Linked DNA regions of Homo sapiens. The protein of the gene in region 1 interacts with the protein of each later gene in a pairwise test. Each region holds a gene or a part of one and is shown in the gene's direction. Other genes may lie near its edges. The genes, in order: NEK9 and PELI2.

Region 1 (15,558 bases):
AGACTCTGTCTTAAGAAATGTGTGTGTGTGTACGCACACACGTGTGCATATATGTACACACACGTGTATATATGTGCACACACGTGTGTGTACATGTACACATGCACATATACATATATACACATATATGTGTGTGTATATGTATGTGTGTATATATGTGTATATATGTATATGACTTGGAGTCAGGCTTTGGTTGGAATTATAGCTCCATTTTTACTATCTGTGATTTTGGGCAAGTTACTTTACATCTCTGAGCCCCATTTTTCTCATATATAAATTGATAATGATAATAATTTCCTTGAATGGTGTTAGTGAGGCTAAAAAATATCATATATGTAATGTGCCTGTCTAGTTTGTAGTAGTCTCTCAATAATGTGGTGGTGGTATTACCATAATATTGTTAGTATTATCATCTTATTATTATTACTGCCTTATCTGTTGCAGCAGAGTATTGCCTGTACAGCCACAATTAGGATATATAAATTAGGACGCAAGTTAGTTGGCAAGGGAACTACATGAAGCCAACAAGGATGGCTAATCTTGCTTTCCTTTTTCTTGGGATTCAGTTGAAAGGTCAGATTATAATATACTCTGAGCATCATATTATTGGCCACATAGTTATAGATTGTATGGCCAGTTGGCTTCATTCTGTCTGATAGCATCAGTGCATCCCTAACCATTTTTTTTTGATGCATACTAGTAGTTATAACAAGAAGTCAGACCTATTGCCAATTCTTTAAATAATGGTCACAGACACCTGAGAGCCCCTACCAGTAGAGTATAGCATCATCTTTATATAACCAGGAACAATGCAGTCATCATTTTCTCATAGAACCCACTTAACCTGTGTGTGAAGATCGTGCAAGGAATTCGGGCCATGGAAGTTGACTCTAGCCAGTACTCTTTGGAATTGATCCAAATGGTTCATTCGTGCCTTGACCAGGTAGGTGTGACTTAAACATTCACTTCAGTTTCGTATTTCCCCTTCCAGCCTCAGTGTTTGGTGTATGGCATAGCTATAAACCATACAAAACCACATCCACTTCCCCAGGGTAGAGTGTATTTGTGGCTATACCCAGAATAGGTATTGGTAATTCATTATAGTTGTGTGCTTCAGTGAACAAATTCTTACTTCATTCTGTTTTGTAAGTGTTAGTTTGTGAAATGAATTTCCCATCTAAATTGTGCTCGATTTTTTATGACCAAGAGTAATTTCTGAATATAGATTTCAAAAAACTGCAATGAAAGATAATTTACCACTTCTAATACAGAATGTCTGTATTTCTCATATCTCATGGTTCCCTTGCTGTGTAGTTCTAGTATTATTCAAAGTATGTTTCATGAAACACTGGAGTCAGAATCACCAGGGAATGGGGGAGTTTTGTAAGTAAAAAGAAGATTCCTGGGCCCCACCCCAGACGAACTCAATCAGAATCTCTGTGGATAAAGCCCAGAAATCTTTATTTGTAACAAACACCTCAGGTAATTCTTCTGTTCTGTATATATTGAGGTTCAAGAGCCACTGCCCTAACTGAACAAGTGAGGAAGATGCATTATAAACATTCTCCTTCATGTACAAGTGTTGATTATAATGAGGTGAGAAGCATAAAATATGGAGTATCACATAAGAAATGATTTTTAAAACAAAAGGATAATGCAGTGGTCTTTGACTAATTAACATCTTTAGATCCGATGTCGCCCATTTCCATTAAGTGAAAACTAACCCTATTTTTACTTTTTAGGATCCTGAGCAGAGACCTACTGCAGATGAACTTCTAGATCGCCCTCTTCTCAGGAAACGCAGGAGGTAAATTATGAAGAAGTCACTCCATTGTCTTTTCTGAGATAGTTGACTTTTAGAGGCTTGATCAGAGTACTAAAAGAAAGAGTAGTGTTTCCTGACTTGGTTGCAATAGTGCTATTTTCTACCAACATCCCTGCTTTTATTGCTTAGGGGTGGCATCTGACTTTTGCCTCCTTAGCCTGTGCTGTTTTGTTGTAAATTTGTACTAATGAGGCCCAAGAGCCCTTCACTCCCCAACCCATTGGTTTTAAACCTTAGAGTTGAGGCATTAGAGTGCAGTAAGGAAGAGGGGTGTCTGGACTCAGACATCCTTATGTTTGTATCTGAATTTTGTCATTATCTTTGTCAAGTTATTTAACATCGTTATTTCTTGGCTTTCTCCTCTATAAAGTAAGATGAGGTCAGGATTAAAGAAGATAACGCATAAAAAGTGGTCAGCCCAGGGCCTGGCATAGGGTGCCTATCAATTGTAGTGTGAGTTGGACTGGTCCTTTGGTTTTTTTGTTTTTTGTTTGTTTTCTGAGACAGAGTCTCACTCTGTCACCCAGGCTAGAGTGCAGTGGCACAGTCCTAGCTCACTGCAGCCTTGAACTTCTGCTGCAAGTGATTCTCACACCTCAGCCTCCCAGGTAGCTAGGACTACAGGTGTGCACCATCATGCCTGGCTAATTTTTCTATTTTTATAGAGACGGGGTCTCACTGTGTTGCCCAGGCTGATCTCAAAGCTGTTGCCTAAGCAATCCTCCTGCCTCAGCCTCCCAAAGTGTTGGGATTACAGGCATGAGACACTATGCCCAGCCTGAGCCTTTGTTTTTCACTGCATTTGTTTAGGTGGTAGGTTGGAGTTGGAGGAATCCTCTTCAGGTACATTTTGCCCATATTTGAAGTCGAGTTTTATTGACTCCTCAGAGGTTATTTCCTGAGATTATTCTGTCAGATATCTTTAGAGATAGGAAGAACATCCTTTATCCCTCTGTTCCTCTAGGAGGTTTCATACCTTAATTTAAAACATTTATCTTCGTTAAATATTTGAGTCTGTATTTCATCCTATTACACTATTTTTGCCTTGCTACGCTTCTTCCTCCACTACCAGTTTTTTGTTTTTATATCTTCCAAATATTCACATACAATGCTCTTTTCAAGTCTTGCTCTTGGATACATTCTGTACATCCCTAATTGCATATTTGCTGTTTCATCAGTACTTTTATTCTACTATGCCATTTAATTAATCTTTTCTGGTTCTTCTCTAGTTGGTCTGTAGCCAGTGTTTTAGTGCCTGAAATTATGTACAGTACTCCAGATACAGCACCATGACCTTCCATTTATGTTTTGTGCACGTGCAGGCAGTATCACCCTTTTGGTCTGGTGAAGCATATTTAAAATTTTTGTCTGGCTTATTTCACAGCAATATAATGATTTATTTTATTTTATTTTATTTACTTTTATTTACTTTATGAGAGTCTCACTCTGTTGCCCAGGCTGGAGTGCAGTGGCGTAGTCTCAGCTCACTGTAACCTCCACCTGCCAGGTTTAAGCAGTTCTCCTGCCTTAGCCTCTCGGGTAGCTGGGACTACAGGCAGGCGCCACCACGCCTGGCTAGTTTTTGTATTTTTAGTAGAGACAAGGTTTTACTACGTTGGCCAGGCTAGTCTCGAACTCCTGACCTCAGGTGATCTGCCTGCATCGGCCTCCCAAAGTACTGGGATTACAGGCATGAGCCACCACACACGGCATAATCACTATTTTAAGTCACTATTTTAATCTCTTATTTCTTGAGTGTAGGCATGAAATTTTTACTGAGATAATTATAGATTTGCCTGCAATACTTTGTTGGAACTTTGTACTTTGATGGAAAACATAAGACAGAGTTTTCCAGACAGAGAATATAGCATAAACAAAATCATAGACACAGGAAGTTGTGGAAAATATTCAGGAAACACAAAATTCTATTTGGCTAGATTAGTGGTTCTAGACCTGGGATTTTTGATGCAAAATATCAGGAGCTTTCAAAAAGTACTGATGCCTGAGCACTACTCTAGGAGCTCAGCTATAATTGATTTAGGTAGGATGACAGCCCTGGGCTAGAACGTGGGGTGCAAACAAAAGGAAGGAAGTCTGGAAAAATAGGTAGGAAATCTTGCATGCCAGGCCAAGAAAATTGTGGTTAATTCAAGAGGTAGTGCAAAAGATAGAGTGGGTATCACATCCACTGTTGAGAGATGGTGGATGTTTGCGAGAGGGCAGTTCACGTGATGAGAGGCATACCTAAGGAAGAGTTATTTGGCAATATTAGTATCTGTGTTAAATTAGTATAGTAAAATGATTAAGACTGTAGTAAGTGAGGCTGATTAGGAGGTATTATCACAGTACAGGTGGGAAGTAGAGCTACCCAGAACTAAGGTGGTGAGACTGGAAAGGAAGAGGTGAGTACAAAAAGTACTATATAGGTAGAATCTGTAGAACCTGAATATTAAAGAAAGGGAGAGAGATGAATCAGAGATGACTGAGGTTTTAAGCCCAGTTGACTGGGAGAATTGGGGAAGGGTGTTGCGGCTAGTTACAGAAATAGAGGAGTCAGAAAGAAAAGCTCATTTGGGAAAAAGCTAACAAGCTCATATTTGGAGATACTGAGTTTGGGAGTCAGTGGGCAGACTAGATGAAGGTGTCCATCAGATACTAAATATGTACATCAGAGGTTCTCAAGGCTCTCTGTTCCAGCCTGGACCATTTCTCAGAGACAGAAAGCAAATGGCCCCAAACTGCTGGCCTTTGGGTATTTAATGAATTGTCTAATGAAAGGACTATATAACTGTTTTGAGTTGTATTGAGGTACTTTGCTAAAAGTATTGTGATGTTGTAGGATGCATACAGTTTATAAGAGGATTAAATCTGTGAAATGTATTAAACAGACACCTTTGCAATATAAAAACCTATTATTTCACTCATGTATCTTTGCTTTTCTTTTGGTAGAGAGATGGAGGAAAAAGTCACTCTGCTTAATGCACCTACAAAGAGACCAAGGTAATGTTCAAGAGACTCTTAAAAACTAATATATCCGAAATTACAACCAGGGGGTTCTTTCTTGAGTGTAGGCATTATTTGATCCGAGGATACTTTGGCATCCTTTCAGGAGCCAGCATCTGCTTAAATGTCAGACAGTCATTTCTAAGAAGAAAGCTATAATTTCACCCTCACACTAAAGTGGCCATCATTACCATGATGAATGTGGAAAAGTGTAGGTGTTATGGGTCAGACTGGAATCTGATCTGGCCAAGCTGTGATGAAGCCCTGAGGCAGGAATTGCAAAGTCTGCTGTGATAGAGCACATTGAAACAAGTTGTCGAGAAAGAACATACTTTCTCATACCATAATTGGCAGTTCTTCTCAGGGAACAGACTGGAAGCATTTTTCTTTGATATTGTTTTTAATGTTAAATGTTCCTTTGTTCTGGGGGTTGTTGGCAGGTCAAGCACTGTGACTGAAGCACCCATTGCTGTAGTAACATCACGAACCAGTGAAGTCTATGTTTGGGGTGGTGGAAAATCCACCCCCCAGAAACTGGATGTTATCAAGAGTGGCTGTAGTGCCCGGCAGGTCTGTGCAGGGAATACCCACTTTGCTGTGGTCACAGTGGAGAAGGAACTGTACACTTGGGTGGTAAGTGAACGCTAAGCATTTTGGAACAGTGCTGTAAGCCTAATTGTTTACTGGGCCCACGATGTCTAAGCATTTTATTAGTTGAACCTATACTAAGGGAGTGGCAACATGGGGTGATGGAATGGAAGCTCTTATAAGAGCAGGGATTTTGTCTGTTTAGTTCACTGATGTATGCCCAGGGCTGGTACATATTAGGTCACCTATAAATGTTTTTTGAATGAATGAATGAGAGAGGGAGAGAAAAATTGAAAGACTCAGGAGACTGGGGTTTCCCATTTACAGCTGGATGATTTCAGACAAGTCACTCAATTACTCTGTTATATTACCATGAGGTTCAGAGCAACTATTACCTGTGAAATAGCTTTGTAAACAAAGGAAGGACTATACCATGTCAGGAAACCCCTGAAGCCCACAGCAGTGATTGAAGATGGCTAGGTATATTTTGTGTAGAATTTGTTTGTTGCCCTCTAGATTCTCCCCTCTCACCTTCCTTAACAAATTGTCTGTGTTTGCTGTCTGTTTCCTTATCTCCCACTCTCTCTTCATTCACCTACAATGCAGCTTCCATCTCTGCCACTGCCACTCAATTGAAACTAGTCTTGACAAAATGACCCATAAATTGCTAAAATAAAACAGATGCTTTTTAGTCCTTACCTAGCTTGACCTCTCGGCAGCATTTGACATAGTTGACCACTCCCTCCTTCTTGAAGCTTTGTCTTTACTTGCCTTCTGTGATAGCATGTTCTCTTGGCTTTCCTCCTGTCTCTTGCTATGCGTTCTCAGGCTCATTTCAGGCTGCTGGAGAGAAATTAGTATCTTAAACATTTATTGGCTGGGCGTAGTGGCTCACAACTGAAGTCTCAGCACTTCGGGAGGCCAAGGCGAGTGGATTGTTTGAGGCCAGGAGTTTGAGACCAGCCTGGCAAACATGACAAAACCCCATCTCTACTAAAAATACAAAAGTTAGCTGAGAGTGGTGGCGCATGCCTGTGATTCCAGCTACTCAGGAGGCTGAGGCATGAGAATCACTTGAGCCTGGGAGGTGGAGATTGCAATGAACCAAGATTGCACCACTGCACTGCAGCCTGAGTGACAGAGCAAGACCTTGTCTCAAAAAAAAAAATATATATATATACTGTCACACACACACACACACACACACACACACACGCACACGCACACACATATATATATAAAATATGAGGACTTGTAGTATACTCATTTAATAGAATTATTTTTCTCTATAAAACTGTTGAAAAGGCCAGACATGGTGGCTTACACCTGTAATCTCAAAACTTTGGGAGGCCGAGGCGAGTGGATCACCTGAGGTCAGGAGTTCGAGACCAGCCTGGCCAACATGGCAAAACCCCATCTTTACTAAACATACAAAAAATTAGCCAGGCGTGGTGGCGGGCACCTGTAATCCCTGCTACTTGGGAGGCTGAGGCAGGAGAATCGCTTGAACCCAGGAGGCAGAGCTTGCAGTGAGCTGAGATCGAGCCACTGCGCTCCAGCCTGGGTGACAAGAGCGAAACTCTGTCTCAAAAAAAAAAAAAAAAGTTGAAAAGTCATCAAGGACTAGTCTCATTGCTGTATAGCAGCCTCTTTGATGTAGCCAGATTCTTTATAACTCTTCCATGTTTCAGGGAAACTGTGACCAAAATTTATGAAACTTCTAGTACAGATTTTCAAGAAGCTATATTCCTGTAGAAAGCAACAAAGTTAGACTATATTATAAAGAATTTTTTTCACCATCACCTGTAATTAAATATATAGTTTACCTTAGACTTGAAGGACAAAGATTAGATTAATGGATATTAATCTGGATACTTTTTAAGTTTTCTTTACCTGTTGGCAGGATCTGTATACTACTTGCTATTAAAATGTTTAATCCCTTTGCCCATTTTTTTCTAATTTCTAAATTTCTAGCTCTTTTTTTCTACTGTTTTTCTTCATATGAAGTTCCATTAAAGATCAGCTTTTGGCATGAAAAATTAAAACTTCATAAGACCTCTCAGCCGGGGATGGTGGTTCATGTCTACAATCCCAGCACTTTGGGAAGCCGAGGCAGGAGGATCACTTGAGCCCAGGAGTTCAAGACCAGCTTGGGCAACATAGCGAGAACCCATCTCTTTAAAATTTAAGTTTAATAAAATGTAATTAAAAAAAAAAGTCATAAGACCTCTTTATTTCACAGAACATGCAAGGAGGCACTAAACTCCATGGTCAGCTGGGCCATGGAGACAAAGCCTCCTATCGACAGCCAAAGCATGTGGAAAAGTTGCAAGGCAAAGCTATCCGTCAGGTGTCATGTGGTGATGATTTCACTGTCTGTGTGACTGGTAAGCCATCAGCAGAAAGTGTCTTAAGTGCATTTAATGTGGGGGTATTTTGCTTAATGCTGTGCAATCTTAGTTGGGATTTTAAAACAAAAGACAGTATACAAAGAACCAGAGGACCTTGAGCAAATATACTCATTAATAATAACATACCAAATTTGCTATAGTATTAGGGGGTGGTGAGCAAGGAGAAGACAGGTGGGTAACAGAGAAGAGGTGGGATCAGGAGAAAATGTGTGTCGTGGTTGGCAGGAAAAATAATCTTACCACCTCATCAGGCTATGAATAACACAAAATTAGGATCAAGACCTAAGTTTAGTTTTGGTCTTGTCATTACTTAGTTAATGATTCCTTGGGACTTATTTTTTTATCTATATAACAAAGATGGCCCCATTAAAATTTTAAGTCCTTTTAATGTGATAATGCTACCACTTTTTAAATTGTTTAATATAGTAGTAGTAGTACACATGACTCTCTGACATAGAACTCTAGACTTGCACAGTCTGTCCTTTTAATTTCTTGGATATAATCAATTCATGTGAGATCATTTGCTGGGGTAGTCCTCATTCCAGCCCTGCCCAACTTTCTGATTAGATAAAATAAGTCAGTCCTTTGATGGATTCTGTTTTCCTTTCTTTTGCAGATGAGGGTCAGCTCTATGCCTTCGGATCAGATTATTATGGCTGCATGGGGGTGGACAAAGTTGCTGGCCCTGAAGTGCTAGAACCCATGCAGCTGAACTTCTTCCTCAGCAATCCAGTGGAGCAGGTCTCCTGTGGAGATAATCATGTGGTGGTTCTGACACGAAACAAGGAAGTCTATTCTTGGGGCTGTGGCGAATATGGTAGGGGTAGCCTTGTCTCTGTCCACTTCTTCACAGGTATACAACCTGACTTCAAAGTTGTATGCATCTAAACCCATCATGCAGCCCCTAAATGAGAAGTGTTAATTCAGTAAATCTTTTTTTTTTTTTTTTTTTTTTTTCTCGAGACAGAGTCTCTCTCTGTCACCCAGGCTGGAGTGCAATGGCATGATCTGGGCTCATTGCAACCACCACCTCCCGAGTTCGAGTGATTCTCCTGCCTCAGCCTCCCGAGTAGCTGGGATTACAGGCACACACCATCACACCCAGCTAATTTTTTGTATTTTTAGTAGAGATGGGGTTTCACCACACTGGCCAGGCTTGTCTCGCTCGAACTTCTGACCTCATGATCCACCTGCCTCGGCCTCCCAAAGTGCTGGGATTACAGGTGTGAGCCACCGCACCTGGCAAAAGAGAATCTTACAGAACCTATTCACTGGGAAGGAAGCCCTCATTATAATGATTTTCATTCTTATGTGTGTTTCAGGACGACTGGGTTTGGATTCAGAAGAGGATTATTATACACCACAAAAGGTAAAATCAGAAGCAACTTATTTCTAAAACCTATCTTAAGTCGCACAGACTCCAATAATATGTCCTCTTTCCTTGGCTCTGTTGTATCAAGGTATTTATTTCCGAAGTGTTTCCTGTTTGGGAGACTGACAATTTAGGATTCCTGATTTAGCACCCTGTGGTCTTGTCATCTGACCAAATCACAGAAAATTGAGAAAGTGGATACAGCGACTGTGGACATTGTGAAGTCACATCTTACTCAGGGATGACAGCTAAAATCAGCGTGTACAGCAGAAAAGTCACATATAGCTACAAATACCCTGGAAAACTCGAGAAGATACTGTAAAGCAGTATACTGTCTCTTAACCCAACACAGCCATTTTCCTCTCCTGTTTCTACAGTTGACCACCAGATGAAATATTAATAGTTGTTTTTGTTTAGCGGTCATGTTGCATGAAACATATTATCTAATTACTCTCAGCCTTGCCAGAGCTGGCCCTGTGAGAGGCTCACAGAGGCTGATACCAGCTGGGGGAAAAGCACAGTCACATCTCTCCCACCTACCCTAGGGCACAGGCTTACCCATTGGAGGGTTGGCTAAATCAGCTATACCATTTATTGTTAGCAGTGTTTTGGGTTTTCTGTTTTCTTTTTTTTTTTTCTTTCCTTGGGAACTTTTAGCCAAACCAGTTTTTATTTATATTTTAAAAATTAAATTATTATGCATTTCTAGGGACCATCCTCAATGGGATTCCCAGCTGTTCCTTTTCTCCTGGAAAGGCTGTGGCAGAAACTGAGGGTTGAGGTTTCAGGTTTTACACACATCCATTGTGACCCCACACATGCATCACCCCACCTTCTCCAGTCCTGTCTAGTTAGCTGTAAAAAGATATGAGCATTTGGAAGTCCTAGATATTACCTCAGTACTCTGTCACCTCTCCTATAAAATGACCAGATTGGGACCCCACAGGGCTACTGAATTTCTGTAACTGTCAAGCAGCCTTCCATCTCAAAGGACAAAATCAGCAATGAATTGAAGCTTCTTTCTCAACTTTTTGACAGGTCACCCTAAGTAGGACCTATTACTAAGACAAACTGAGAGGGTGCTGTCTTGTTTAGTTGACCTGGAACTGTCACCTTTTCTTTGATATTGTAAAACTTGAGCTCTTCGTTGACAACAGTAGCCTTGACCGAGCACAATGGCTCACGCCTGTAATCCCAGCACTTTGGGAGGCCGAGGCGGGCAAATCACTTGAGGTCAGGAGTTCGAGACCAGCCTGGCCAACATGGTGAAACCCTGTCTCTACTAAAAACACAAAAATTAACTGGGCATGGTGGCACACGCCTTTAATCCCAGCTACTCAAGAGGCTGAGGCAGGAGAATCGCTTTGAACCTGGGAGGCAGAGGTTGCAGTGTGCTGAGATCATACCACTGCATTCCAGCCTGGGCGACAGAGCAAGACTCCACCTCAAAAAAAAAAAGAAGAAAAGAAAATAGTAGTCTCAGCCAGGCGTGATGGCTCACACCTGTAATCCCAGCACTTTGGGAGGCCAAGGTGGGTAGATCACCTGAGGTCAGGAGTTCGAGACCAGCCTGGCCTACGTGGCAAAACCTCATCTCTAATAAAAATACAAAAATTAGCTGGGCGTGGTGGCATGCACCTGTCATCCCAGCTATTTGGGAGGCTGAGACAGGAGAAGTCGCTTGAACCTGGGAGGCAGAGATTGCGGTGAGCTAAGATCGCACGACTTCACTCCAGCCTGGGCAAAAGAGGGAAACTCTATCTCAAAAAAAAAAAAAAAGAAAAAGTAGTCTCTAAGACACTGGGCAAACCTGAAAAGAATAGAGCAGTCCTCACTTTCCTGTAGTCATTCTGCTAAATGCAGCATGTCTCTTTTGAAAGAATTTGAGAGCTTTTTTTCTAATACGAATTATATATTTGGGATTTCTTTTTCTGATTTTTTTCTTGCAGGTGGATGTTCCCAAGGCCTTGATTATTGTTGCAGTTCAATGTGGCTGTGATGGGACATTTCTGTTGACCCAGTCAGGCAAAGTGCTGGCCTGTGGACTCAATGAATTCAATAAGCTGGGTCTGAATCAGTGCATGTCGGGAATTATCAACCATGAAGTGAGTGTCCTGATTGGTGTTCTAACCACATCATCAGAATTTCTCTAGGTTGGAATTTCTTTGAGATGCCATTATTGGTTAGTGACCATGGAATTTGACTTTAGTTATGGTCTCATAGGCATTGTGTGCAGAAAAAGAAGCCAGCCACAAAGAGTACATGCTATATAGCTCTATCTGTGTAAAATTTAAGAACAGGCAAAATTAACTTATACTGGCAGAAATCAAAACTGTGGCTACTTATTGAAGGAGGGGTATTAACAGAAGAGGTGGAAGGGATCCTAGAGTAATGGGAATGGTCTATATCTTGATCTGTAATGGTTTTACCAGTATATGTATATAGAAAAATGTGTCAAGCTGTGTGATATTTTGCAGTGTGTTATACTTCAACAAATAAATTGATTACAAAGAATAAAATGATGAAATTCAGCTTTTACCTTATTGAAATAGGAACAAGCAAATTAATGTTATAAAAAAAAACATATTTCCATGCATCACCTTCCTGGAGTTTTTTTGATTGATTGGAGTTTTTTAGATTTCTCCCAAATCACTGATCCTGTTTAGGCTTATCGAATGTAATTACCATTCTGTCTTCAAAAATGTTAGCAAATTCACCACTGATATTGTCTTAGTTTCCTTTTTTTTTTTTTTATTATACTTTTAAGTTCTAGGGTACATGTGCACAACGTGCAGGTTTGTTACATATGTATACATACGCCATGTTGGTGTGCTGTACCCATTAACTCGTCATTTACATTAGGTATATCGCCTAATGCTATCCCTCCCCCCTTCCCCCACCCTATGACAGGCCCCGGTGTGTGATGTTCCCCTTCCTGTGTCCAGGTGTTCTCATTGTTCAATTCCCACCTATGAGTGAGAACATGCGGTGTTTGATTTTTTGTCCTTGCAATAGTTTACTGAGAATGATGGTTTCCAGATTCATCCATATCCCTACAAAGGACATGAACTCATCCTTTTTTATGGCTGCGTCTTAGTTTCCTTTTTGTGTTAATATAATGAGTTTTGTCATTTTCCAAAGAATAAAATTAAGAGACAGAAGTTTTCTGACTCAATGAAAAAGGTAAGAATTAATTTTTAAGCAATCTCTAAAGTAGTGATTTTCAATTAGGAGAGTACAAATTCAGGGCAAGGCTGGAGAGAGTGTCTTTGTAGTTTGAAAAGAAATATTCAGTTGCCGGGCACGGTGGCTCACGCCTGTAATCCCGGAACTTTGGGAGGCTGAGGCGGGCGGATCACGAGGTCATGAGATCAAGACCATCCTGGCTAACACGGTGAAACCCTGTCTCCACTAAAAATACCAAAAAAAAAAACAGCCAGGTGTGGTGGCGGGCACCGGTAGTCCCAGCTACTTGGGAGGCTGAGGCAGGAGAATGGCGTGAACCTGGGAGGCGGGGCTTGCAGTGAGCCGAGACCGCGCCACTGCACTCCAGCCTGGGCGACAAAGCAAGACTCCGTCTCAAAACAAAACAAAATAAAAAAACAAAAAAAACAATATTCAGAATTACTATTACTTGATTTATGTTTTCATTATAGCAGTGGATTTGTTGTGAAATTTTAAACTTAAATGAGAGGATTCTTTTTTAATACTAATTCAAAGGGAACATGAGTTTTAATTAAGTTGAGAAACACTACCCTATAGATGAAATTAGATCACAGTAAGCTGATTCCTTTATGGGCTGGAGACAGTCCTCAGGACTTTAATTCTTTGCCCTGCCCTTGTTAGATATGCAGAGTGTATAACCAAGGTAAATGTCAACGATTCTCTCCTTATATAAATACCTTCTGGGATGGAAAGTTCATGTTTTATAAACCCTAAGTCAGAATCTAAAACTTTGGTTGTCAGAAAGTTCTGCCTCATGTGCTGCATTCTCTGATTACATATTCAGCTTATTTCCTCTTGTTTTCTGTTGGAGATGGAAAACTACCTGGCACCCTCTTCTTAGTAATATAACTTACTTGAAAGGCCTTTTGGTCACCAGGACTTTTTTCCATTCTCAGCCTGATTTTCCTTCGATTTTCTTACCTCATGCATCTGCTTTGTGTTTTATTTTGTTTCAGGCATACCATGAAGTTCCCTACACAACGTCCTTTACCTTGGCCAAACAGTTGTCCTTTTATAAGATCCGTACCATTGCCCCAGGCAAGACTCACACAGCTGCTATTGATGGTAAGTTGATTTACAACTGTATCACATGCCTTAGTAGCTGAGCCTCTTTTATTCTATCAGGTATTAGGTTTTCTTTATATGTATATCATCCCGATTTCCCCTGAAAATCTAGTATTATTTCATTAATGTATTCAGGTACATATTTTTATTGATAATTATTATAAATGCATAATAAATACATCCTTTTATGAGAACACCACACCTATGATTCCAGACATCTGTTGTCTCTGATTAGCACCTTTTATAAGTATTCTAAGGTAGTACTCATTTTTCTCACTACAAATACAGTACTGGAGAGAGAATACAATATCGAGTCGCTGACTGGATCTAATTGGTTATAGTGCCTAGATACTGTATTTGTCCTAGGTCCAGGATCATGTGGCTAGTTTTATATTTGTATATTCTAACAACCGGAAGCTAATCCATGAAGTCTGCTTGGCTGCATCTTCTCTGGGTTCCAGGACTCATTTGTGCCTTGTTATTTCTTTTTGCTTCTCTCTCAGAGCGAGGCCGGCTGCTGACCTTTGGCTGCAACAAGTGTGGGCAGCTGGGCGTTGGGAACTACAAGAAGCGTCTGGGAATCAACCTGTTGGGGGGACCCCTTGGTGGGAAGCAAGTGATCAGGGTCTCCTGCGGTGATGAGTTTACCATTGCTGCCACTGATGGTGAGTCTGTACATATCATTTCAAGCTTTCTGGACACATGGCTGTGTTTCAGTTCTTGGCTGGGAAAGAAATGGACTAGTTATTTGTATAGCTGAATTGTGGATGTACTTTTTTATTTGTATTAAATTGGTGGCCGGTTATATATATTGAGCTTTATTAACTTTTCATGTGTTCAACATAGTGATTGTTTTTAAAGGCCAGATTTCTAGATAATGATAGGTTAATGTTCTACATTCCTCCTTTTTTCATTTCAGCTTTCACTTTTTTGGTAAAATGTTATAAGAATTATTAAGTACTTCTATATAACTTGCCCAGTATCTTGTTGATTGATTTCAGTAAACATTGATTGGGTAGCTGGAGAGAACAGCATATTTTCTCTGTTGGCTGGGGTCACCTGTACTGCAGTGATGTCCATAGGGACTGCTAAGGTTTGAAGGGCTGCTTTCCGCTATATTATGTATCTCTCAGATTTCTGAGTTGGTCTAATTGATTTTTCTCCTCTCTTTTCTCTGAGACGATTTTTTTGTTTGTTTGTTTTGTTTTTTGAAACAGAGTTTCGCTCTTGTTGCCCAGGCTGGAGTGCAATGGCGCAATCTCGGCTCATCACAGCCTCTGCCTCCCAGGTTCAAGCGATTCTCCTGCCTCAGCCTCCCGAGTAGCTGGGATTACAGGCATGCGCCACCATACTCGGCTAATTTCTGTATTTTTAGTAGAGACGGGGTTTCTTTATGTTGGTCAGCTGGTCTCGAACTCCCAACCTCAGGTGATCCGCTTGCCTCGGCCTCCCAAAGTGCTGAGATTACAGGCGTGAGCCATTGTGCCTGGCCTTTTTTTTTTTTTTTTTTTTTTTTTTTTTTTTTTTTGAGATGGAGTCTTGCTCTATTGCCCAGCCTAGAGTACAATGGCGCGATCTTGGCTCACTGCAACCTCCACCTCCCGGGTTCAAGTGATTCTTGTGCCTCAGCCTCCTGAGTAGCTGGAACTACAGGCACAAACCACCACGTCCAGCTAATTTTTGTATTTTTAGTACAGACAGGGTTTCACCATGTTAGCCAGGCTGGTCTCGAACTCCTGACCTCGTGATCTGCCCACCTCGGCCTGCCAGAGTGCTGGGATTACAGGTGTGAGCCACTGCACCTGGTCCTCTGTGGCTATTTCTTTCCGCAGTATTGTCTGGTTCCTCACTCCTCTTCTTTTTTTTTTTTTTTTGAGACACAATCTCACTGTTGTCGCCCAGGCTGGAGTGCAGTGGCGCGATCTCAGCTCACTGCAACTACCGCCTCCCAGGTTCAAGCGATTCTCCTGCCTTAGCCTCCTGAGTAGCTGGGATTACAGGCACTCGCCACCATGCCCAGCTAATTTTTGTATTTTTAGTAGAGATGGGGTTTTGCCCTGTTAGCCAGA
Region 2 (15,558 bases), about 19 Mb from region 1:
ATGGAAAAATTGTCTTCCACAAAACCAGTTCCTGGTACAAAAAGGTTGGTGACCACTACTCTAGAGCACCCTGTCCATGGCTGTGCTAGGCCTCAGGTGACCAGAGCGAGTCTTCATGAGACAATGACTTCCCAGTGAATTTGGGAGAAATACTTAAATGTTAAAATAGCAAATGTGTTAGGGAATAAAAAACAAAATTTATAATTTAAGGTAAGCTGTTTTAAGCATGAGCAACTCCATTTGAGGGCTGCTCCCCAGACATCTCCAGGTTCAGGTAACCCTTCCAATTCAGGCAAATGGAGTGGAAGTTTGAGAAACACCATACTTAAGCAGGTGCCATTGTACAAAAATGTATAACCTTTAAAAGTATTTCCCATTATTGCACTCGTTAACTCCTTGTTTTGCAGATCATTTGTACACTATAGACATTTTATGCAATATGTATATGCCATGAAAGTTGTGTTGGAGTTGATATATTTGTAAATTGAATGCATTTAAAATGCAATAGATACTTTATAGGAAACCCTAAAATAAATTATTTTGTAATCAACTCCTGATTGTTAGTTTTATAAGTTTGAGTTTAATAAATTATTTTTCTTAAAGTAGGTTTCTTCACTATTAAGATAAACATGTACTTTTTACAAATTGTTTTTCAGTTTTATTGAGGTATAATTAACAAATAAAAATTGTATATATTCAAGGTGTACAGCATGATGATTTGATATATATACACATTGTGAAATGATTACCACAAAAGTTAATTAACACAAAGATTACATCCACTTAAATTGAAAATAGTTCTTTATAAATTTGGCTTTCAAAAACAGTCACTCTCAGTGAATTTATCTGACTCAGATCAATGAAAATTTAAGACGATGTCTGTTAGTAGTGTTGAGTACTTTAAGAAGTATTTTTTAGATTCCTGACCATGTTAAAGAAGTATTATCTTAAGGAAGCACATAAAATAAAACATCAGCTCAATCATGAAATTCCTCAGGGCAGATTATTAAATAACCATGAGATTAACCAGGCTAACTAACTTCAGAGTTGATTTGGAATGTTTTACTGTTTATTGCTGTAAGGAATTACATTAGTCAAATATAAATGTTTAGTACATTTTCATTAACATGCTGTGTGTGTCCAGTTTCTTCTAGATGCTTTCTTGGTCTTCATACAGTGTCATCATTCAATAAATGTGTAATAGAAAAGCTTATTAAAATTTTGTTATACTTAATGTAAAAGATTAAAAATGAAGATAAGTTAGATTGAAGTAGAATGAATAGAACACAATTGAAATAATTTGGAGTCCACTTTATATCGATTTATTTGTTAATTTAGAAACATTAAAAGTATGTGACCACAACTTTTTGTTCAAACATATCACTATGGACAAAATAAGAATGATATCATATTATTCCTAGGCTATTTGAAAAAGAATATTAGCTTTTTCTGGCCTAAAATTTGAAAAAAATAAAATTGCTAGTTACCTTATTTATTAATAAAGTAAATATCTGACTTAACTAGTTGCTTATACAAGATTTAAGTGAGATGTAGAACAGAATACAAATATGGTTATCATTGGCTAGGACGGTGTATTATGATATTGAAATCTTAATTAGAACATTGACAGATTTTCCAGTGATTCTTTTATGATGCTGATAATCTCTATCACCTAGGAAAAATAATAATATGTGACTTATCTGTTGTGTGAAATCTTAAAACTTGAAATAAATGACTCTATTAGTCTAAAAATTCTATTTCTGAGTTTAGGTAATATGGAGAAAGTGTGTGTTTTTCTAAGAATGTGATTGAATCGAGTCTTGCAAACTAGTAAATAAACTTTGATTTGATTTAATAAAATATTGTTCACTTTAAGACAGAATATTTGATAAAACCAGAATTGTGACTCTTGGCTTGTCTGTGATTGACGGAATAGAGCATAGGGGAAAAACCTGACTGTGTGGAAAATGCTGGCTTGTGCTGGGCTTTGCCAGTAGAGTGGTGGCTCATAACTACAGGCAGAATTGATAAGTTGTTGAAATGGAATTGTAATGGATTTTTTTAAAATTTTATTATTAGGCTATCAGCTGCAAAGGTCAACACAGTATATCCTACACTTTGTCAAGGAATCAGACTGTGGTGGTGGAGTACACACATGATAAGGATACGGATATGTTTCAGGTAATATTTTTCTTTTTTAATAGAAATTTTAGCACGTTTTCCTTTAATTCTCTATTTTTTATATGTAATCAGATCTTCCAGCCCAGTATGTCCAGGGGGAAAGAGTTGAAGATAATATAAAAATTATTCCTGTTTGGTTGTTGAAAGAATAAGAAAAAAACTTAATTCTTTAATTGTAAAGGGAAATTATAAAGGCTACATTCTCAGACCTCAGTGCAATAAAAATAGACATTAATTAAGCAAGAATAAAAATTTTAAAAGCTAACCACTTTTAAAAGCCAACATTTTCAGAATACTTTCTAAGTAGCATTTGAATGAAAGGGACATCCAAACTACATTTATAGGTCTTTTCAGAAATAACTGTGGGAATATCATGTAGCACAACTGACAAGACGAGGCCAACATCTTACTCGGAAGAAAATGCCTTACGTGCTTTCATTATTAAGAGGAGGGAAAGAGAGAGAAAGAAAGAAGATCAAGGGACTAAACATTTATCTCAAAAGTTCTTTTTTGACAAAGTACAGCAATTAAGAAAGTACAGGATGGGTTTGGGCATAGTTTTAGTGGTATATAATATAAAGTCTAGAAGCACATCAAAAGAGCAGAAGGAAGGAAAAAAACATTCGTCAGTTAATGAATTTAAAAAAAAGAGAATTAATGAATATATTCCAGATTTAGTACTTTAAAACAACAAACAATTAAAATTTAGACTAATAACAGAAAAAAGCAAGCATAAGTTGGAATTGATGAGGCTTTGCATTTCCATATGGAGAGTTAAATTATTACATAAATGATGTCGAAACAAACATCAAAAGAGTATGATAGATACTAACATCATACTCTGCTAAAGTAAATTCTAGAGAATAAACATTTAAATATAAAACTGAAGGAACAAAAAGTTCTAGAAAAAAACTTAGGAGAATTCATATTCTTGGAATAGGGAAGGATCAATAGTAAATGAAGAAATAGATTTTACCCTACGCATTTTCACTTCTTTTTTAAATGTCACAAAAATTAGAAGTCGAACTAGAGACAATTAGGGCAACAAATCAAGTAGACAAAGGATTGATACCTACTGTACAGTAATCACTTTTCCCATGCTTTCAAAAATGGACAAAGAACAAAACATATAATTCTCAGAAGAAGAAATATAAATGGCCAATAAATATATAAAATAGTTTTTAAAATACCAAATGAATTAATAATAAAATACTCTTTATTACCTATTAATTGGAAAATATTAAATAATACAGCACTGTAAAACATTGTATGGAATTGGTCCCCCTGGTGGGACTGTGAATTGGTGCAACATTTCTATAGGGCAACATTGCAGTACTACCATGAATTTCAGCGCTCAGACCAATTGACCCAGTAATTCTAACTTCAGTCATTTTTATACGTAAATAATTAAGGAATATGAACAAAGATTTAACCAAAAAGTTGTTCATTGTAGTGTTGTATATACTAGTAAAAAACTAAAAATAAACCTATACTTCCAGGAGTAGGTAAGAATGATTACAGTATGGTGCATTTAAATGCAAAATACCATGCAGCCATTACATGATTATTAAATGGGAAGCGCAATAAAATAAGTGAAAAAAGGCATATGTCCACTTCATGCTTTATTTTTATATGCACACACATAAACATAGGTATGGAAGAGAGATGGGACTAGAAAGAAATGCACCAGCTCTTTTTCCATTTTCTGTAACATTGTAAAGTACAGGCCTAATCTGGATCACCTAATTCAGTACTTTTGATTGAGAAAGAAAGAATATTTTATGTGGTTTTTAAATGTATTTGCAGTAGTCCTGAACTTCAGCACCTCAGACTGATAAGAAGAGCCAAAGGCAAATTACAAATTGGGGAAATATTTACAATTTGTATCACAAAAGGTTAATGTCACAAATATATAAGGTACTCTTGGAAATCTCTTTTTAAAATACCTACAATCAGATAGACAAATGAGCAGAGGATTTGACAGACAGTTCACCAAAAAAGGAAACTAAGTAACTCTTAAAAATAAGAAAATATGCTCAACCTCATTTACAAAAAGAAAAATGTGAATTAAAACCACATAGAGATACCACTTTTCACTTGTCAGATTGGCAGAAATCCAAAAGGTTTTGTCAAAGATATGGGGAAAACAGACATTATCCTACATTCTATAAATTGGTATAGCATTTATGGGGTAGCAATTTGAAAATAGCTATGAAAAATACAAAATGTTTACATAGTTTGACTCAGCTCTTTTCTTTGTAAAGCTCTTCTTTCTAGAGACTTACCCCAGAGATATCCTTACCTACATGCGCAACGCCATTTGTACAGAGTTATTGCTCAAAGCATTGCTTAATAGGAAAAGATTGGAAACAACCTAAATGTTCTTCAGTAGTGGACCAGTTCAGTAAATTTGGGTACAGCTATACAGTGGAGCCCTCCAAGGGTATAAAACAGAACAAAGAAAAGCTGTATATATAGCCACAGAAAGAGCTCCAAACATATTAAATGAGTTAAATATTAATATTATTGAGTATATGGAGTCATATTGGTAATATATATTCCATTAATTTAAAATGCTACTAAATAAAATGTTATTAAATAATATGAAATATTACATTATTAAATGTTAATTTAATATGGTAAAATGGTTTAAATCATGCTTATATGCATTAAAAAATCTCCAAAATGATTAACAAGACATGAATGTAGCAGTTGCCTTTGTGGGGAAAGGGACTGAGCAGGTGGTATACAGGGAGATATTTTACACTTTTCGATTTTTGGAACTATGCGTATGTGTTAGATATTTAAAAACTAAATAATCTTAGATAAAATATATAGTCATATTTATAAAAATAGTTATTAAAGTGCCAGTTTGAACTCAAAAATAAGATTTATCATGTTTGGGCAAAATACTAAATGTGGTTTTACTCTCCATGCCATTCCATTATATAATCTTATAAATGTCTTCTTATTCTGTTAAGGAAAATATCTTCCTACATAAGTATATGTATATTCTCCCCTGTTGATATTTTTATGGAACTTTATTATTATATCTTTTTAATACTCATTAAAATTATTTTCAATTTATAAGTTTTTTTACTACTTACAGTAGCAGTGAAGATTTTAAAGATTTTTTTTACAGAGAGAATTCTTAATACTAAAAAAGTGAATAAAGCCTATTTCACAATTGTCAGTGATACTTTTTTACCACTTAAATTCAAAAACTACTGTGATGGTACCTGTTATAGGTAAGTCAGGTACTCTCAAAGTGTGAGACATTAAATTCCTTTAAGAAGAATCTTGTTTCTTCGGAATTTTTCAGAGTTTCATAGATATTCTTTAGCGACGTACGTGTCACATAGTGTATTCCGCACTGTTGAACAGTCACATTCGACTCACATGCTCACTTTCTTCCCTCTCATCTCTGCAGAATGAATTAAAAGATTTAGTTGGACTTTTTCAGCTTCCCGTTACTAACTTCTGAGTACTTTATGCATACTTCCTATTTTGTCATACAGAATATCGAAAGACTCAAGATTTAATAAAGTTCATAATTTTTAACTGCAAATTCACAGCAATGAAAAATACAATGACTGCTAATACAGTTTGGTGCCACTGCTTTGAATCATGCCAAAGCACCAGCAGCTTTACCCACCATTGTTCTAGCACCATCAGCATAGAGACCAGCACAGTGGAAAAGGCAGTTAACGTCTTTGTATTATTATGAAGGTAATTTTGGCCTCATGTACCTAGACCCCATGGCAGGGTCTCAGGGACCCTCTGGGGTTCATCAACCACATGCTGAGAATACTGATTTGTACCAACCTCTTAATTTCATAGCTGAGAAATATGGGTGTTTGAAAGGAAAAGTAATGTAAACTAAGGCCAGAAGAGAAGAGGCATTAGGGGCAGAGCTAAGATTTAGGTCACTGAGCTCTTCATTCTCTGAATAGTACCAGCTCAGCCTCTTTAAATAAAGTATGGTAAGCCAAGCAAGAATTCACATGTTTCTTAAGGAAATATAACACATTACATTCACAGACTCACTGGACCTGTTAGAAGGATCTGTGGCAGATCATTTTAAGCAGAGAACTAAGCAACTCTCATAAGACCTTGAAAAGACAGGCTTGTTTCCATTTTTTCCTCCTTTTAACAAGTTTATATTTCCAAAGCCTACTACTGACAAAAATCACTGAGCAAAAAGCGCGACAGCACTCATAGTTCTGAAGTATGGACCTCAGTGTGGAGAGTTTGTTCGTTTTAGTCATTCCCATTAAAATGATTTCTAGGGTTAATTGAGTATTTAAAGGCAGAATATCAGAAAGAACCAAGAAAGGGCTTTATGCTGCATTTCCCACTGTTGGAGTCAGTTAGTAGACTCAGAACTCAGAAATATTATTGCCTGAGGAGAAAAATCAAAGCTAGATCTGAATTTAAGGTATAAGAAATTGTTAGTTAATATAATCAGAGTAAGATCTTGGTCATTATTTTCTGGAGTAGGCATAAACAAGGAAAGAAAGAAAAGTCTAACAAGAAAGTGAAACATAAAAGAGAAAATAGTTAATGGAAGGAATTAGAGGGGTGCATTGTCTTTACAGTGTCCCTAGAGTAACGTGTGGTGCCAAGTGCCTTCTGACCTTAGGGGCCAGGAGACTGACTGGGCCCTGCAGCCGGTGTTCAGGGGCCCTTTCTCTCAGATTTCACAGTTTCACAGGCTTCGAACGCGGTGCTACAAGGCCTAACAGTTTTGGGTTTTGGTTTTTTGTTTGGTTTGGTTTGGTTTGGTTTTCAATTTAGTTGATTTACTGTAGTTTTAGATGATAACATTTAATTAGTATCTATTAAGTTAAGAGGAAAATATTAAAGAATATCTACATTTTCTAGTGGGTATTTCTACAACCATTGTACATGAGCATGCATGTGCAGGTATGTTTGTATCTCATAGGATTCAGCCTCCCTGTCATAATCTTCCAATTACTAGTTTCATCTCTTGACCATCTGCTGTGTCAGAAACTCCTTTGATGACTGGGGAGAGATAACTAAGGCTCTCCTCTCAAGGAGGCTACATCTGGAGAAGGCAGACCACAAATAAACAAACCCTCTGGGCAGAGGAAACAGTGAGCGCAAAGGCTCCAAGTCAAGATCACAGTGGAGAAGGACAGCAGTGAACTCAGATGGACTTGGAAGGGCAGGTAGAGGCTGAGACAGGTAGGACCTTCAGGCCAGGTTGAGTCTGAGATTTATTCTAGGAATTTTGGGAAGCTGTTGGAGGATTTTAAGCAGGAGAGAGGTATAATCTGATTTATGTTTTTGTACGATTTCTCAAACTACTGTATGGAAAAGAATCTAGGTGGCAAGTATGAAAACAGGGAGACCAGTTTGGAGGCTAAGGTGATAGAACCCAAGTAAGACATAATGGTAACCAGAACCAAAATGGGAAAAGTAGAAGGATTGAGGATGTGTTTGGAGGTACAGCTGACAGTGTTTACACAGGGCTAATGTGGGCATGGAGGAAACTGAAGAATCAGGTTATTCTTGGGTTTTGACTTTTAGCTTGAGCAAATTGGATGTCAGTCAGTCATTGATATAGGGAAGCCCCAGGGTGAAGGGGGATCCAAGTTCTGTTTGGCATATATTACATTTGAGATATTTATCAAACATACAAGTGGAGATTGGGTGTGCCGGTCTGAAGCTCAGGGGAGAGATGAAGACTTTGAGCTGTTAGGTGGGATTTGGTGATACTATTTAGGGAGAGAACAGAAAGAAAAGGGAAGGGGGGACTATTTACCAACTGGCCTGAAAGTTTCATTATTTTAGTACCAGGTAGAGATGGACCGGCATATGCTGGCTCAGCATAAGCCCTGGATTTAGCAATATATTGATTTTTGGAATCTTAGCATGCGTGGTTTCAGTAGAGTTGTGGGGAAGGAAGCTCAATTGGAGTGGGTTGAGGAAGAAGGAAGCTAAAGATATGGGTGAGGAAGTGGAGGAGATAACAGGTTTTCCAAGAAGTCTTGCTGTTAAGTGAATCAGAGAAACAGGGCTGGAGCCTGGGGCTTGCTTGCAGGTGAAGGAAAGCGTTTTTAAAGGTGGGAGACTACGCCAGAGCAGGGCTACTCAAACTGCACTCCCTCTGCCCAGCAGTGAAATGTTTGTTAAAATACAGAATGAGATAAGCATACAAATTGAGAGGAAACTTTTATGACAGTTTGGCATTGCGGAAACATCCAAGCAGATGATCATTTCTCAAGTACTCATTTTTATTGTATGTTTAAAAGGCATCAGTGATGGGTTAAAATTTAAAACAACAACAGCAACTATACTGGTCCTTTAACCACAGAGTTTGAGAAGCTCCAGAACGTGTGTGAAAGCTGATGGCATGATCCAGTATAAAAGGAGAAATTGGTGACTCAAGAAAGAGAGGAGATAATATTAGGAGCAAAATCCTTGGGAAAGGGAGAACATTGGAATACCAAGTGTCAATGGAAAGATTGCTTTTAGATGGGAGCAACAATATTTCATCCTTATCCCAGGAGGGAAGTCAGAAAATAAAGTGATTGATGCAGGGAGATGGGAGGAATTGGTTGAGGGAGGTGAGAAAAAGGTGAGGCCCTTCTAGATGCTTTGATACCATCTTACCTGTCCTGGCTTCAGCTGACATCCAGGCAAACCCAAACTTTTCTTATATATATAAAATTTAACATGCTGAATGGAGCAAAGTTATCACTGTAGCTAGTTATATGACTACCGGCATTCTGTGACTATCACATGAAATTCAGAAGCACCCTGGCTTGCGTGCTATATGAATATCAGATGAAATTCAAAAGCATCTTGGCTTGTGTGCATGACTGCCTTTAAAATAATGTAGAGTTGATCCAGTAGTCAAAAGAAAGGGCAGGCTGCAAGTTTTCCACATTGAGTGATTTTTCAGCAGGAAAGTGACTTAGTTTTGTTTTTTTGTTGTTTTTTTTGTTGTTGTTGTTGTTTTGTTTTCCTGGAAAAAGCAACATGAGGCTTGTGTCATAAAGTATAAAATTTTACCAGCACTCTAGAGGTTAGATTTAAGTGGAAGCAAACTGATAAGTCATGTGTATGACCGATCAAGATAAGTGTCATGACTTAAAATCATTGATCCTAGCAGGCTGTTCCAGTTAGAATAAAATTTCCTCTTTTTACAGTCAATTTCAATTACTTCATCAAGACATTAATTTAATACATTTGGATGAACTCAGAATGTGGCCCTTCTAGAAAAGAGTAATTTCTGTACACAAGAAGGAACAGTTATGAAACATTCAAACCAGCAGAGTGGTTTTGGCTTTGAACTTAGAGCTTGAAAAGTCATTGCCCTCTTCCATGGAGATGGACAAATCTTGTGACAGTGACTGTCGCTATGAGGCTCCAGGTTTGGTGAGATGACTGGGAAATTCTAGAATTTATCACATTTTACTCCTAAACTTCACTGGAATAGAGGCTCAGGACAGGTTTACGCCTAAGTTTGAAGTTGGCTTTGTTTTCGCCTTTATACTTTTCTCCATTTGTTAAATATTTTGCAATAAGTCTTCATTACTTTTCTAATTTTCTTGTTAAAAAATGTTTAACAAAATTAAAGCAGTCTGAATCAGTAGAGTTTCCAAGTTACCCAGTTTTTAAATGAATCTAGCAGAGAGGAGATTTTGCAGCTTTAGAAGGATGAATTATATGATTTTATAATACATCTAATTTAGATTTTACATTGCATTTTTTAACAAGTTATGTGTTTTCAAAACCTGAAATGCATATATCTAGGCAATATGCATCTGTTCAAATTGTTAAGTTTCAATGAAACCAGCAGTTTAGTTCATTCCAGGCACATTTCATTAGGGCAAGAAATTAAGGGTGATAAAAAAACAAAAGAAAATAGATGTCTGTGGTCTGCTGGTTTTAGAGAGATAGTCTGTGCATGAGAACGTATATATGAGATTTACAAAAGAAATGTAATATTGTTCCAGGAAGCAAGCTGAGCTAAGTGATACAAGATTTTTTTTCTACTTTCTTCATTTGGATGAAAAATGTATTACATTGCCTAGTTTGTAGATAGAACTTTGAGACCAGAATAAAAATGCCTTGGAAATTGACTTTTGGGAACTTTATGTGCATACATCACAGGCCTCTGCATTCCTCCCATTGGCAACTTCAGAATCAGAGTTACAGTTGTTGGGATAGAACATTAATCCAAGAGATAAAATCTGATGAGTGGCCAAAGATCTACTCCTGTCCTCTTAATTGAGCTTTTTCTCAATACTTAAAATCTAATGAACTAGTGAGTGGCATAAAGTGAGTTAAGCAAGATGAGTAAGTTCTAGAGAGTTGCTGTGCACCGTTCTGCCTGTAGTCAACAATGACTGCATTATGTGCTCAAATATTTCAGAGGATACATCTCATATTATATTCTTAGCACAATACAATAAAATTAAAAATAGGTATCTCTAATATTTGGTTACCCTAATATCTTCCCTAGTTAAATAGGAAAAGGAGCACGAATGAAAATCTTGCATTAAATTCTAACCCTCAGAACAAGGATAGTGAATGTTAAAGGAATCCTGAATGCTTTTTCCTTGTGAATAAAATACGGCACCCTGCTATTTTCCAAGTGAATCACGAGTACATTTGATTTACTTAGGTGGGCAGATCAACAGAAAGCCCTATCGACTTCGTTGTCACAGACACGATTTCTGGCAGCCAGAACACGGACGAAGCCCAGATCACACAGAGCACCATATCCAGGTTCGCCTGCAGGATCGTGTGCGACAGGAATGAACCTTACACAGCACGGATATTCGCCGCCGGATTTGACTCTTCCAAAAACATATTTCTTGGAGTAAGTACTGTCAAGAAGTACACGATTTCTAGAAAAATGCTTGTGATTATGATATGGAACATTTAATTGGAGCAAAAAAAAATTGGCTTTGTATGTTGCCTCTAGTGAGATTTTGAGATTTTAGTTTTCAGGTGGCCAGTTTGAGAAACTTGTTATTAAAAATCTGAACATTAATAAGCATTGCTTGTTATTCATTATATTTTTTATATTGTAATATTTACAGTAAGTACTTTTTTTAAAGTATGCCTATAACATTGTCCATAATGTATTTACGGCAACGAAGAGGTTTATTTCAGAGAGAAAAATAAATGGGCCAAATTTAGATCATTAGGGCTTAGAGGAAAATGTTAGTGATTCACTCATTCAAAAATGTTTTATGAGTGTTTGCTATGTTCCATACTGGGTGTTTTAGTTATGGGATTACAGAGAACAACACAGACTTGAATCCCTGCCCTTATAGGGTTTCCTTGTAAACCCCAGAAGTTTTAGTGAATATCCAGGTTTAACATAGTTTCCTTTTGAATTAGGATATTTTTGCAGGAAAAAACCCACTCAAAATGATCTAAAATCAGTGAAAATGTACTATTCCCACATAAGAAGTGCCGATGAAGGCCAGCTCCAGGGTTGGTGGTTCAGTGGTTCTGTGACATCCAGTGCACTGGGTTCTCTCTGTCTTGCCTTCTGCCTCCCGTGGTGCACCAGCCTCTTCCTGGGAGGTCTTCTTGTGGGTGAGAGCTGGCTCCTGCACTTCCAGATGTCCCCTGCCACATGACAACTTCCAGCCAGAGAAGAGGGTGGCAGAAGCACTGTTTCTTCCTTGTCTCTTCTTAGAGCACAGACACCTTTCTTGGAAGCCTCCAAGAAGATATCATGTGTCATCAGTCAGAGCCCAGTCATGTGCTGTGCCCACCTGTAAACCAGCTATTGGGAAGAGGGCTGGGAGTGTCATGTTGGGTTAATCAGGATTCCCCACCACCCCCCAACCCCCGCCCCAGCCACATGAACAGTAGCTGAGCTCTGTCACCAAGAAAGCTGAAGGGAAGAGCTGTGGCACAAGCACCCAAGAGTGTCTGTCCTGTCGTCATGTCAAGCTACATGCGCCATCTACCTTTGAGAATTTAAACGGTGATTATTATGAAAACATAATGACCCCGACTTGTTGGCTTAACATTTTTGGAATTTTCTAGCTTTAATAAAAGGTCTTTCTTTATGACTGTCCTTTCTCTTCTCTATCCTGACAGTGAGAACATAGAAAGTACTTTTAGATAACAGGATAGGAGCATGGCATAAGTATAACTGAAAAGAGAAAACACACCAGATTCCTGGAATCTCATGGGGTTGTGGGGAAGGTAAAAAGAATCTTAGAGGGAGAAGCCCAGGCCTCGATTTTTTGCAAGTTCTTGAGAACTATGATGTGTGTCCAGTGATAAGTCATTCATCCATTCAGCACTTCTTTTATATTGTCGAAAGGATGGCATATGTTATCCTTGTGATTATTAGCTTTAAATAGAAAATGAAAATTCATCACCTTCCTCCCCTCTGCCTCTATGCAATGTATTAAAGAAATTCCAGAATCCTTTCCATTTCAACATCATCTTAACCTACTTTTTCTGTTCTGCTGTGTTCTCTCCAGGAAAAGGCAGCAAAGTGGAAAAACCCCGACGGCCACATGGATGGGCTCACTACTAATGGCGTCCTGGTGATGCATCCACGAGGGGGCTTCACCGAGGAGTCCCAGCCCGGGGTCTGGCGCGAGATCTCTGTCTGTGGAGATGTGTACACCTTGCGAGAAACCAGGTCGGCCCAGCAACGAGGAAAGCTGGTGAGTGTGCTTCACTCTGCAAGTGTGAAGTACGAAACTACTCAAGCCTAACTCGAAGGCTATCATTTTCCTCCCCTGATGTTCAGAACCTTTGTGCAGGTCCAAGCGCCATGTACTGTAACTCAGGAGAAGCAGAATTCCACAAGCCCCTGAAATCAAGAGGGAAATGGCCTTATCTCCTTCAGGGGTTCAACTTTTCCCATAGTGGGAGTAAATTGTGTTTTGCTCCTTACCACCTGAAGAGCATTATCTTTTATTATATACCTCACCACAAAAATCTACTTAAATTCACTTTAAGGAGAAGAAACTTATTTTTAGTGTAAAACTTTATTGATTTGGAAAACGTTTGAGCAGTCCAAAAACAATTAGTAAAAATTATGCATTAAGGAATTATTTACTAGACTTTCTGGAAGTAAAAAATAAGTCAGCTGGTTTTCCCTTTGAATTCCTATATATTAAGGCAGAATTCTCTATACTGTCCACCAAAATCATAGTTACAACTGTTTACTTGAAATGATTTATATACTGCATTGACCTGGCATGTTAATATTTTCCTATAAATATCACCACTTATCCCCATGCCCTAAAGCAGTTTTTTTAAACCCATTCTTTCTTGGAGAATAATTATAATACCTTAAATATAGAACTTTGGGTTTCTGATCTTGCCATAGCCATGTAGCACAGCCACTGATTTTTAGTAAGCTGTCCATTCCTGTACTTTTCTTAATTTGCTAGGTAGAAGCTAGAACGAGAGAGAACAAATGTCTTTTTCTAGAAGCTAGAAAAGAAGGAGTTCTTCAAAACTCCCACAGAATAAAATGTATACAGAATAGAGGATTTGACCTAGCACTTGTCAGAGAGAAAGATCATCACCAAAAATGTCTAAGATGGAAAAAGAAGTTGGGGGCTGTTTCACTGACCTCATTTGCTGTTCTCTACTGGATGTTTGTGTTTAGGGAATGGTTATTTTTATTTCTATTTTACACCATTTTTCAGCTTCAGGCACAGCGTATGCGTCTTACAGTGCACCATGGCTGAATAAATATGAGAAGCATTTTCTAAAAAAAAAGCAAATTCAATAAATTTTGTATGAATGTTTTCAAGAAATTGTAAACAAAGGAGGAAATGTGAAAGCAGTTTTTCTAAATAATCTTTTGTTTCTGATCACTGGATAGTTTTATACAAAACTGACCTAGATTGGCCAAACTGGTTATTCATCATTATAACAGCAAGAGTAAGAAGTCAGTAAATGGTTGCTGGGTGCAGACTCTGCGTTAACATTTCCGACATGAGCTCACTTCATCTGCACAGCAGCCCTCTTAGGGAAGTAGAGTCATCCCCATTTCATGGATGAGGAAGATGTGGCGTGAAGTTAAAGATTGCCCAGTGTCACAGAGTTAGCAGGTGGCAGCCAGTGGGATTCAAACTCAGGTCTCCCTGATGGAGAGCCTGGACACCTAATACTACTCAGTACCATGTTGTGGGGAGCCAGGGATGGTTTACACCTGAGCATTTGCCTCCCTGGGTGAGTATAAAGCATACGCTGGAGTCCGTGGGGAGCGCCTTTGTCCAGGAGGGCATATCACAGGATGAGTTTCTCGTCCACTCTGGTTATTGTGTAATGACCCTTCTCAGGCTGCTATGTGTGCTGGAGAATTTTACAGTGCGACTGAAAAGAACGAACTCCAAAAATGGCTTGTATTAATGAGTTGTATTAAATATACAGGCTATTTTTGAAGTTAGTCCCTATAAGCGACACTGAGAACTATGTAAAATTGTGCTGTCCTATTTGATAGCATCCGATTAACCTGGCCAGTTACAAAGGCTTCTATCAGCCTGATCTTGGGCTTATGGGACACTGAACGGATACATTCTTCCTGCAATCTCCTCTTGTTAACCTCTGGAGAACAGTTTTTGTCTGTCTTCGAGGAAAGCTTACTGACTCTTTGAACTTCTGTTTCAATTCATGACTCATTGGTCCTGTACATGTTGCTGGTAGCATTTGATATAAATTATGTTTATCTGGAGGTTAGATTTTGGAGACAGTCTCTGGCAGTACTTGTCATTTGCAGTCTAATACAGAAATATGAGAAATAAAGTGAGCTGCTAAAAGTCTAAAATATTTGTTAAAACAATAGTAGTCACATTGTGGAGCTAGTGCTGGTGGAAGATTATGTATTAATATCATACTGAGCATTTGATATGAATCAATATACTAATGTATGTGTAACAAGAAATCACCGTTGTTTTTCATTATTACAGCAAATGATGGAACCTCAGAACTGTGTACTAATCAACAAAATTAATTAAATATGGGGGAAATGTCTTTTCAGGCCTTTAACTCCCTGAATAAATAGGTGAATGGAGTTTGAATTGTGCCCTCCTTTTTTAGCTAGTTAATGATAACATATGGTAACATTTATAATATTACTCCAGGAGGGCCTTGAGTATTTAATTAAATTATATATGAAGTATTTTATTAAACTAAACTGGCTTTGTATAAAATTAAGTAAATTCAGTTAAGTTGATTGCATACCTAATTTTAGGTGAAATTATAAAAATAACCATAGCGTAGCTATGGTCAGGCTCTAGCAGGTGCATTACATTAATTGTCTTTCCAGTGTTGCTTAAAATAACCCGTGAAGTCAGTGTTGTTATTGTGTCCGTCTACAGATGAGGAAACCTGGGCTTTAAAAGG

The links.
Region 2: the proteins of NEK9 (region 1) and PELI2 interact in a two-hybrid assay, tested with the Homo sapiens proteins (one study listed by BioGRID).

Annotation. Positions count from the first base shown.
Region 1 is NC_000014.9:75,099,588-75,115,145, reverse strand, and holds part of NEK9 (serine/threonine-protein kinase Nek9), read left to right. Parts: intron 1-832; coding exon 833-943; intron 944-1,742; coding exon 1,743-1,807; intron 1,808-4,774; coding exon 4,775-4,825; intron 4,826-5,268; coding exon 5,269-5,461; intron 5,462-7,658; coding exon 7,659-7,803; intron 7,804-8,443; coding exon 8,444-8,644; coding exon of another isoform or gene 8,645-8,680; intron 8,681-9,149; coding exon 9,150-9,196; intron 9,197-11,148; coding exon 11,149-11,304; intron 11,305-13,380; coding exon 13,381-13,489; intron 13,490-13,992; coding exon 13,993-14,154; intron 14,155-15,558.
Region 2 is NC_000014.9:56,277,597-56,293,154, forward strand, and holds part of PELI2 (E3 ubiquitin-protein ligase pellino homolog 2), read left to right. Parts: intron 1-2,079; coding exon 2,080-2,181; intron 2,182-10,840; coding exon 10,841-11,038; intron 11,039-12,671; coding exon 12,672-12,860; intron 12,861-15,122; coding exon of another isoform or gene 15,123-15,170; exon of another isoform or gene 15,171-15,558. UniProt on the Homo sapiens protein: E3 ubiquitin ligase catalyzing the covalent attachment of ubiquitin moieties onto substrate proteins. Involved in the TLR and IL-1 signaling pathways via interaction with the complex containing IRAK kinases and TRAF6.